Linked DNA regions of Homo sapiens. The protein of the gene in region 3 interacts with the protein of the main gene of each other region in a pairwise test. Each region holds a gene or a part of one and is shown on either strand. Other genes may lie near its edges. The genes, in order: TNNI1, CFAP68 and PRKAB2.

The links.
Region 1: the proteins of PRKAB2 (region 3) and TNNI1 interact in binary tests that used the Homo sapiens proteins (3 or more experiments, as listed by UniProt).
Region 2: the proteins of PRKAB2 (region 3) and CFAP68 interact in binary tests that used the Homo sapiens proteins (3 or more experiments, as listed by UniProt).

Annotation. Positions count from the first base shown.
Region 1 is NC_000001.11:201,411,661-201,415,311, forward strand, and holds part of TNNI1 (troponin I, slow skeletal muscle), read right to left. Parts: intron 3,595-3,651; coding exon 3,553-3,594; intron 2,990-3,552; coding exon 2,858-2,989; intron 1,462-2,857; coding exon 1,372-1,461; intron 1-1,371. UniProt on the Homo sapiens protein: Troponin I is the inhibitory subunit of troponin, the thin filament regulatory complex which confers calcium-sensitivity to striated muscle actomyosin ATPase activity.
Region 2 is NC_000011.10:111,882,482-111,886,232, forward strand, and holds the end of CFAP68 (cilia- and flagella-associated protein 68), read left to right. Parts: coding exon 1-117; intron 118-654; coding exon 655-721; intron 722-1,289; coding exon 1,290-1,399; 3' UTR 1,400-3,494; downstream 3,495-3,751. UniProt on the Homo sapiens protein: Microtubule inner protein (MIP) part of the dynein-decorated doublet microtubules (DMTs) in cilia axoneme, which is required for motile cilia beating.
Region 3 is NC_000001.11:147,158,897-147,162,547, reverse strand, and holds part of PRKAB2 (5'-AMP-activated protein kinase subunit beta-2), read left to right. Parts: coding exon 1-108; intron 109-767; coding exon 768-836; intron 837-1,714; coding exon of another isoform or gene 1,715-1,751; intron 1,752-2,905; coding exon 2,906-2,983; 3' UTR 2,984-3,651. UniProt on the Homo sapiens protein: Non-catalytic subunit of AMP-activated protein kinase (AMPK), an energy sensor protein kinase that plays a key role in regulating cellular energy metabolism.

The DNA.
Region 1 (3,651 bases), about 54 Mb from region 3:
CCTATCAGCAGTCACCAACCTTTTTGTCACCAGGGACCGGTTTTGTGGAAGACACTTTTTCCACGGAGAGGTGGTGGGGTGGTTTCAGGATGAAACTGTTCCACCTCAGACCATCAGGCATGAGTTTGATTCTCATAAGGAGCGTGCAACCTAGATCCCTCACATGCACAGTTCACAATAGGGTTCACACTCCTGTGAGAATCTAATGCCGCCGCTGATCTGACAGGAGGCAGAGCTCAGGCGGGAATGCTCATTTGCCCACTGCTCACCTGCTGCAGTGTGGCCCAGTTCCTAACAGGCCACGGACAGGTACTGGTCCACAGCCCAAGAGTTGGAGATCCCTGCTCTAGGACAGTCAGACCCACCCATCCCTTTGCAAATAACCACTGCACATTTGCTGATAAACGGATGGTTAAGTGGACAGATAAAGCCTATTAGCCGTTGCTAACACTATAGCCTTGAATAAAAGGGGCGGCTCCACCAGACTGAGACTTGTCTGATTTGGAAGCCCTATTTGGAGTGCAGGGCTGCTTCCTCTTGTTCCTGCAGCCTCATCCCTGCTTCTAACTTATTCCTCCCCAGTGAGCCTTCAAAGCAGCTCACAGCCTTGGTCCAGCAGGGTGATAAACTTACAGGTCCTAGACCCCTGGAGGAATTCCCAGGGTGTGATCTCTAGGGGGAGTTCTTAGGAGCTTGGTGACCCCACATATAATTCCTGGTGGGCAGAAGTGGGAAGGAGAGAAGTGGCTTGTGCTCCCTCCCTGCCCCCTCCTCACTGCCTGGACAAATGCCCCAAAGGAGCCCTGTCCTTCTCTGCTCTGCCCCTCCCCACTGGAGCAGGGTCTGGGTGGAGCTAATCCTCCCACACCCCATGCTAAGGGAGCACAGAGCACCGGAGTGGAAGCCAGAGACCAGCACTGGTCCCAGGACCACCACTGTGCAACCTAGGACAAGTCTTTGGCCTCTCTGATCCTGAGTGTTCTCCTCTGCAAGGTGCAGATAATAGCCCCTACTTCATCCACAGGCCTATAAGGAGGATCAAAGGCTATAACGAACATGAAAGCACTTCACAAAGGTAAGACGTTATTAACAGGCATATGATTATTTGTGTGGGTGGATAAAGAGAGCAGCTTCTGTTAGGCTGATGAGCCCACATGGCAGGTAGGGAGGAAGTTTGTACTTTTCATGTGTGATTATCCACTCTACCCATCTCCAGCCCTATGGGGCTAGGGCAGACAAACCAAAGTTTCCTGCTTAAGTGGCCCCTTCCTAGGCCCTGTGGAAGGAGGGGACCTCCCATGGCTGCTGCATCCGTGCCCATGCCCCTGCCCAACCCATTATGGCCATGCCCCTTCCCTTCCTTAGACTCACCTCCCTGGTGTTGTGGAGGCATTTGGCCTCAATGTCGTATCGCTCCTCATCCACCACCTCCACCTTGGCGTGCAGCTCCCGGCACAGGTCCTGGGGGCCGCAGATGGATCATGCAGGTGTGAAGAAGAGGGGAACAGAGACATCAGTTTCCAGCCCTTGACCCTCTCCCCAGCCCCTTTGCAAGACCTGGGATCCAGAGAGGAGCTGACAGTCTCCTCCACTCTGAGGCTCATGACGGGCAATAGCTCAAAGGGTATGCCCTCTGTTCTCCTGTCTGAATGTCATGATTTCTTAAAAAATAGTATTCCTTCGCTTGAACCCAGGAGGCGGAGGTTGCAGTGAGCTGAGATCACACCACTGCACTCCAGCCTGGTGACAGAGCGAGACTCCGTCTCAAAAAAACAAACAAACAAACAAAAAACTAGTATCCTTGGCTGGGCACGGTGGCTCATCCCTGTAATCCCAGCACTTTGGGAGGCCAAGGTGGGGGATCACCTGAGGTCAGGAGTTCAAGACCAGCCTGACCAATGTGGTGAAACCCTGTCTCTACTAAAAATACAAAAATTAGCCAGGCATGGTGGTGTGCACCTGTAGTCCTAGCTACTTAGTAGATTGAGACAGGAGAATCACTTGAATCTGGGACACAGAGGTTGCAGTGAGCCAAGATCACGCCACTGCACTCCAGCCTGGGCAACAGAATGAGACTCTGCCTCAAAAAAAAAAAAGTATTCTTTCATCATGGCTCATTGCAGCCTCAACCTCCTGGGCTCAAGTGACCCTCCCATCTCATTTTTTTAAACTTTGTATAAAGAAAAGGTCTCACACTATGTTGCCCAGGCTGGTCTCGAACTCCTGGGTTCAAGTAATCCTCCTGCCTCCGCCTTTCAAAATGCTGGGATTACAGGCATGAGCCACTGTGCCCAGCAAAATAAAATAGTTTTCTTATGATAAAAGTAATGCGTTAATTTTAGACATTTTGAAAACTATGTATTAAACAAAAATAATAAAAATTAAAATACCTAGTGATGCCACCACCCAGGGATACTTAGTAACATTTTGATATACTTCCTTCCAGTCTCTTTTCTCTATAATCACTGGCATTTAACCAATTTACCAGTGTTCTGAAAACATTGAAGACCAAATTCTAGGAAAGGGTAGACAAGTCCTTGGAAAAGTGGGGCTTCTCCCAACCCCGGCCGCCTCCCCACTCCATGCCACCACACTGGCTGATTGTGAAGCTGGGCCGCCCAGCCCAGGCAAGTCACGCCTCCCCTCTGATGCTCAGTTCAGTGCCCGTAAAATGGAATCTAATGTTCCCACCTCACAGGTGGTTGTGAAGATTAAATGAGACCATGTAAGGGAGGAGTGCCCTGTAAATTATGGAGCCTTGAGCTGGTGTTAGTTCAGGCTCCTGCCGCCTGGTCCTTGGAGCCACCCACACAGCACCTCCAGCCCCACCCTGCCCCGCCCCACCTGCCAGGCTAACCTGCAGGGCACTGAGGGACAGGCCACGGGTCTGCAGCGTGGGGATGCGCTCTGCCAGGTAGCGCACCTTCTCAGCCTCGCGCTCCTCGTGCTCCTGCTCCCAGCATTCCTTGGCCTTGGCCAGCATCAGGCTCTGGACAGGACACACCTGCTGAGCTGGGGGCCTCACATCTCCCACCCGGCATCAGGGAATGAGGGGAGGGCAGCCACAGCCTGGGCCAACTCTGAGACCACTGTCCAGTGTAGAAGTGTATGCAGCAGCCATGGACAGGCCACCATGAGGGTACACCCAGTGGCTGCACACAATGTTCCTCAAGCCCTGGAACTTGTTTTCCCCGGACAGTCTTCCTCTTATCCACTTACTGTCTGTTTTGACCCACAAAACTCCAAAGAGAGAAACACATATGAAAATAAAGGAAGTCCCTCTGCCTGCATGAGTAGCTTCCCACTCTGAAGCTGGTCACCACCTACTCTAGGGACCACAGGCGGATGCCAGAATCCATACTCGAGGATCCCACCTACTGATCACCTGAGCCTGGCACTGGCTCCAGCAATGCTGGACTCCTGCCCCTCATCATCCTCACTCTGGCCTCCTTCCTTTCTCCTTGCCATAATCCTCCACATCCCTTCAGAGTCTGCTCTGCTGCCCCTCTGCCTCCCACTGGGCATCCCCCCACAGCCAGCCCCCAGCCTCACCTTCAGCAAGAGTTTGCGGGAGGCAGTGATCTTGGGTTTTCTCTGTGGGCAAGAAGAGAGAGAGACAGGTGGTGAGGCAGAGGCTGCAGAACTGGAATT
Region 2 (3,751 bases), on a different chromosome or scaffold from region 3:
GGATGGCGATGCACCACTAATGAGAATACCTATTCAAACCGTACCCTGATGGGCAACTGGAACCAGGAAAGATATGACCTGAGGAATATCGTGCAGCCCAAACCCTTGCCTTCCCAGGTAATCTAACTTTGTCTTTTTTGTTTGTTTGTTTCCTTCTGTTGGCAAAAGAAATGTAGTGGCCATTTGAAATGCAGGGATGTAATAACTTCTGGTGCAGTGATCTCTCAGTTTTCAGTGAAGTGGTTGGGGCAGAGGAACAGTCCGCAGCTGAACCACCTATGCTACTTTACTGTCAAGTTGAATATTTTATTATCTGTAAGGTTTCAAAAGGAAGGGCAGTCCTCTTTTTCTCTTACTTCTGTTTGGACTTTATCTCTTAGTCTACAGAAATTTATAATGTCTTCTGACTTAGACTAGCTTTTCCCCTGGTCCTTGCCTATCTAGACTTGTCATTTATCTGAGTCTTGCACTTAAATCGCTCCTAAACAAACAAACGTACAAAACATGTGAAAGTTAGAAGGATATAGACTAACACCATAGAACTCAGTCCATCTAAAATATGACAGTCCGTGAGAATTCATGTCATATTGATCTTTATTTCCTGATGTTAGCTGTAGACTTCCAGATTCTTAATCTGTTAATTTTTCTTTCCAGTTTGGACACTACTTTGAAACAACATATGATACAAGCTACAACAACAAAATGCCACTTTCAACACATAGTACGTGGACTGTTTTTTCAAATTCTTACATTTTCAGAACCTAACTCAGTGACCGGCACATAGAAGGAACTCAAATAAAAGTAAACTGAATAGGTGAATAAGTGAGGCTGGGCGCAGTGGCTCACACCTGTAACCCCAGCACTTTGTGAGGCTGAGGCAGGCAGATCACTTGAGGTCAGGAGTTTGAGACCAGCCTGGCCAGCGTGGTGAAACCCCATCTCTACTAAAAAAAATACAAAAATTAGCTGGGCTTGGTGGCGCATGCCTGTAGTCCCAGCTACTCAGGAGGCTGAGGCAGGAGAATCACCTGAACCCGAGAGGTGGAGGTTTCAGTGAGCAGAAATCAAGCCACTGCACTCCTGCCTGGGTGACAGAGTGAGACTCTATCTCAAAAAAAAAAAAGAAAAAAAAGGTGAATAACTACATGAATGAGTAAACAGGATTTTTTCTTCAATTTTAACAGGACTTACTGTCTATTCCCTAGAAATAAGAGCAAGATCAGTTACTAAAACTCCTTAGTGTTGACTGTTTTCATTTGTCTTTCCTTCCTTTTTTTTTCTTCCCTCAGGATTTAAGCGAGAGCCTCACTGGTTCCCAGGACATCAACCTGAACTGGATCCTCCCCGATACAAATGCACAGAAAAGTCAACTTACATGAATAGCTATTCAAAGCCTTAAATTGGGCATCACTCAGGATGTGTATAAGATCTTAATATTGACTAGTTTCACATCCAGGTTTCTAAGAAATGATAAGATACTTCACTTTTCCAGAGTGAAATGTAGGAGGGAGCACATTCTAAGTACAGCTAAAAATTTAGCTCACTGTAACACAGTTTCACTCTCTGAATAAATAAAGCAAAAAACACAGTAAATATTCTTTATCCCTTTTTTTGTTGTTGTTTTAACCAAGATTTAAATGTCAAATTTAATACAGCAACTCAGTTCTACATTTGGGGTGTTGTAGAAGGGCCTTAAAAAGAATTATTTTAGGCCAGGCACGGTGGCTCATGCCTGTAATCCCAGCACTTTGGGAGGCCGAGGCAGGTGGATCACGTGAGGTCAGGAGTTCGAGACCAGCCTGACCAACATGGTGAAACACTGTCTCTACTAAAAACACAAAAATTAGCTGAGCATGGTGGCTCACGCCTGTAATCCCAGCTACTCAGGAGGCTGAGGCAGGGGAATCGCTTGAACCTGAGAAGTGGAGGTTGTGGTGAGCTGAGATCATGCCACTGCACTTTAGCCTGGGTGACAGAGCGAGACTCTGTCTCAAAAAAAAAAAAAAAAAAAGAATTATTTCTCTGAAGTCTACAACCACTGTGGTCTTCCCTTCCTTCTGTCGTAGCAAGACCTCAGAATCTAGCATAACTTAGGCTAGGTTTGGCTAGATGCTTTCTGGGTATAAGCCAGAGTCGTATAGTGCAACTTTGCTGTGACCTTAGTGAACATCCCCTCTTGAGGACTACAAAAACAAACGTAACTTTTTAAAATTATTATGGAGAATTTTACGTAAAACAAAAGTAGACAGGCTAGTCTAATGAACTCCCATGTATCATTACCCAGCATCAACTATTTATGACTAATCTTACCTACTTCTACTTTGTCTTATTGAATTAATTTTGGAGCAGATCTTAGAAATAGAATTTAATCTATAAAAATCTTGGTGGGCTGGGTGCGGTGGCTCATGCCTGTAATCCCAGCACTTTGGGAGGCTGAGGTGGGTGGATCACCTGAGGTCAGGAGTCCAAGACCAGCCTGGCCAATGTGGTGAAACTCCATCTCTTCTAAAAATACAAAAATTAGCTGGTCTTGGTGGCGGGCGCCTGTAATCCCAGCTACTTGGGAGGCTGAGGCAGGAGAATTGCTTGAACCCAGGAAGCAGAGGTTGCAGTGAGCTGAGACGGTGCCATTGCTCTCCAGCCTGGGCGACAAGAGCGAAACTCCGTCTCAAAAAAAAAAAAGAAAAGAAAAAGAAAAAAAAAATCTTGGTATACTGGCTGGGCACAGTGGCTCACACCTAATCCCAGCACTTTGGGAGGCTGAGGCAGGAGGATAGCTTGAGGCTGGGAGTTCAAAACCAGCCTGGGCAACATAGCAAGACCCCATCTCTACCAAAAAAAATTTTTTTAAAGATTTCAGTATATTTCTCAAAAAGATAAGGACTGTCAATTGTCTACTCCCCCCCAACAAAGGTCACTAAGGAAACCTGTTGACTAAACAAAGCTCATTAAACCTATTGTAGTGTAGCAAAGGAGACCATCAACTTGACACAGAGTCTTGGTAATGATTCAAAGGGAGGATGTTAGAGTAAGGTATTTATAAGGATTTGAGATAAGGGTCCAACTGGTTTAAAATGAGTCAAAATAGGGAACTAGTAGAGACTGAGAAAGGGTTGTGAATAGCTTAGGTTTGGTAAACTTAGGAAATCAACAGTCTTAATTTTAATATGGTTAAACTGATTAGTATTTCCTATTTTTTTATCTACTGTGTAAGAAGACACTATAATATATGGGCATTACTGAGAGATACTGCCCATATGTTGTCCTCGTAAGCAAGGAGATATTTTTTATCTCCCATATATTACCTCTCAAACCTTTGTTACTTTAGTTTCGAGATATAGATCCAGAATTTATGTTGTTACTCAGTAGTGAGGAAGTTTCTTTTTTTTTTCTAAATGGCTATCAAGTTGTCCCACCATTAGTTATTGAAAAGACCATAATTTTTTCACTCCTATTCAATGCCATTTTTATTGTAAATAAACTATGTACATGTAGGTCTGTTTCTGGGCTACTATGTTCTATTAGTTTAATTGTCATTCCTTGTATTATCTTAGTTATGATGCCTTAATTGCACCATCTTAATTATGATAATTTTATTACATTATTATTATTTTATATCTTAATACCTAATAGATCAAATGCTTTCGTCTTGTTTTCTTCAAGAATATTAGCTATGTTTGAACTTTTGCATTTCCATATAAAATTTAGAATCAGCTTGCTCCATAAAATGACACTGTTAGGATATTGATTG
Region 3 (3,651 bases):
TATGGTCAAGAAATGTATGCGTTTCGATCTGAGGAAAGATTCAAATCCCCACCCATCCTTCCTCCTCATCTACTTCAAGTTATTCTTAACAAAGACACTAATATTTCTGTGAGTATCCTGAGTATTACTGGGGCATCTGGGGGTGTCTAGGACCATTTGGACCAAAGTTCAGTAATCCTAGAGGTTAGGATTACTACAGAGGTGTGTTGAGATTATAAGTCATACACATACCAATAACATTACAGATTTCCTTTTTCCAGTGGTGAGTCACAGCTTTTTCAGGTACTGATATAAAAATTCATAGTTGTCTCCTCATCCTAATAAAATCAGGATCAGAGCTATGGACTTCTTTTGAGCACAACATAAAGGAGTAGTTATCATTTGGGGGTGTACAAAAGAACTATGAAAGCTTTTTTGTATATAATTCATGTCTCTATTCAATCTACTTGATTCCTACTATGATTGTTTTTGCCTTGTAACACAACTCTTCCTTGTGTGTTGTGGGCAAGATTTTTGTTTTAGCTCTCTTAAGGAAGATTAGTAGATGCTGAGGCATGAGATTTCTGCCCTGGACTGATAATTTTTCTAATTTTCTGTAATAGGATTGTATTATTGATACATACTAGAGTGGGTGCATTATTGAAAAGAGATAGCGCATTCTAGTTTAAATTTCTCAAAGAGCTCTGAGGAAGAGTAAGCTGTTTGGTTTGTCTGTGCATTAATTTCATTTAGTAATTTTTTTAGTAATTTTTTTCTCTTTCTCTTAGTGTGACCCAGCCTTACTCCCTGAGCCCAACCATGTTATGCTGAACCATCTCTATGCATTGTCCATTAAGGTAAGTGGTGGCCCTGGCTCTTCACAGAGCTCCCTGGAATGAGAGGTCAAGGGTAACATACGTTCTCAGTGGTTACTTTCTCTGCTATTTCATTGAAGCTGAAGCTGGCAGTAATGATCAAATTATAGAAGAACTCTCTTTTTTTTAACTACTAGGTTGTTTGTTTTAAAATCTCAGTCTCTGTGTTCTGGCTGGCTGAATTGCCCTCTGATAGGACTTTTTTGCTGCCCAGTTATTTTTTGGGTGACTAGAATCTTTACACTAACTGTTTACTTAAGTTTGTGTTCATAGCATAGGATTTCTTCTGCAGAAAAAGCAGGTTTAGCTTCCAGTTCAAAGAATGCTTGAATGTGATATTAAGGCTTTCATTTTTTGAAGGTGGAATTGAGCTACTTTCAGGTGCCTCATTCATATATACTCAGGTGCTTGCATCTCTCCTATACACTAGTTAAAGGAGAGATGTGACCAGATTTGCCCTGTCCCGTCAACTCTAGAGTCCTCCTTGGTTTTTCTGCTGCTTTAGAGTCTGGGTTGGAAATAGCCATTCTGTTCTGTCTTGTTATGTCTTTGTGGTTTGGCTATTGGAATAAAGTTATATAGCTCTGCAGTTATCAAACCAGGCTGATTATCATTAGAGTCTCCTGGAGAAGATTGTAAAAATACAGATTCAGCAGCTCCATTCCTAGAGATTCTGAATAAGTGCATCTAGGATGGGCCCTATAATTTTTTTAAGCTGCTTTTACTTGGATATATAGCTGGATTCGGGAAATCACTGATATAGCTAACAAACTATGTGGTACAATATAACACTTAAAAATATATTATTGAATTTAATTTTTATAATAACGTTGTAAGTATTTTTAACTCCTGTTTTATAGATAAAGAAACTAAGGCTCAGAGAAGGTCAAATTGCCAGTAAGTACCAGAGACAGGACTGCTGAGGTCCAGTCCTCCTATGCTGACTTCATATTCTTTCCTATATTATCATTATGCCAGGTCTTTCCAAGTAGGTTTTTCTCAGGTATTCCTCATTTCCACAAAACCTGTGGAAGTGTAAAAGTGAATTGTTTACCTGCCTTGCTTCTGTCGTATTTAGGCTTTGTGTCAGCATGACTCTGGAGTGTTAACCCGAGAAGCATTCATGGTGGATAATACAGTACGGGGGAAGGTAGAAGGATACACTTGTTCTTAATCGGATTTGCTTGGGTTCTTTGGGATCTGATGGATTTTGCCTCCTGTAACTGCTCCTTGGATGTCATTTAATTTGCCTAGGCTTGCCATCTCCTCCTGTGGTACATCTGTAGTCTACAACACAGCCTGGGAAATGGTACCTCTTGCTGTCTTCTTACTGGTTCTGACTCAGGTGAAGGTGTTTGATTATTGTGGCTTAGCTTGGTTCTGACCCATTCCTGATTCTCTCATATTGTTTAGGCAGTTTGGAATTGATCCATTGGATTGGGTGTCTTTCTGAAGAGGATTTTGACATCTACTTTGTTCAAGGATAGAGAGGGATTCCTAGGTTCCCTCTAAATCAGAGAGATCTTTTGGAAGTCATCCCTGGTTTTAAATGAAAATTAGACCTGCTTTGGGACTTGGAAATAGTTTTTCAGAAGGATTGTTTCTTTTTTTCCTCATTGTCTTTAAGACTTTCTTCTAGAAATGGATGCCAGAATATTTTGTTCTTTTTTGTTTTTCTTGCTAGTTTTAGGCCCAACATTAGAATTTAAAGTAGGGAAGGGAGCAAGGTAGGAGACTATTATTTCTTCAGCCCTTTTATGTGTCAGAAACTGTGTCAGATATTCTCATGTAATCATCAGAGCAACCTTAATGGTAGGTGTTATCTTTTGTAATGATGAGATAAAAAGACTTGGACACACTAAGTAGATTACCCAAGGCCACAAGTAGAATGATGATAGGAGTCAGAATTGGAACTAAAACTTATTTGACCTCCTGCTCTTATATCAAACTATCTCTGTTAAAAGTGAGTGACTGTGAAGGACTGATGACTGGGAAGAGCTACCTACTGTCTGAAGTAATGAATTAGCTGCGTATGTTTCTTTTCCTTGCAGGACAGTGTGATGGTCCTTAGCGCAACCCATCGCTACAAGAAGAAGTATGTTACTACTCTGCTATACAAGCCCATTTGAAGGGATCCCTTCTTGCCTCTAAGGATTCAGGAGAAGCATCTCCCTTGCATTTCTGGACTGAACCAGTCTTACCTGAGACTGGAAGGCTGATTTGCTTTGAGGCTGATATGTGTGTTTCAGAGCCTCTGAGTAGGATGCTCTGCTTTTGCATTTGATTGCAGATGAGAGCTTTATGAGTTCACGGAATTTATTTTAAGAAAAAAAAATATACATATGAGAAGAAGGTAAATGGAAGCCTCCTAGCCCCAGCTAGAAGTATTGTTTCTGCCTGTGGGTTTTCACCAAGACCTGTTTGGGGGCGCTGCAGGAATAACTATATAGGAAGATTTTTCCTAAAATGAAAGAACAGCAAACTCTTAGGATCCTTGTTGGGTGGAGATTCTATCACTGCTACCTTGGCTCTCCAAGGAATGGGCTTGTGCTAGACCGCTGCCCTACTTAACAGCTGCCTCATTGCAAGGGCAGTTTTTCTTGCATGGGTTCTCTATATTCCCAGAGTATGTGGCACAATCTGTGTTGTTTATATGATACCAGATGCCCCACAAGAACCCTTATTCCTCTCATTTCACATTCTTCCTTTAATAGCCTCCTTCAGATCCCATACCTGACCCCTCTCTAACACAAAACTTATTGGGTAAGTGACTTTGAAAAGTTTTGTGGCACCTGAC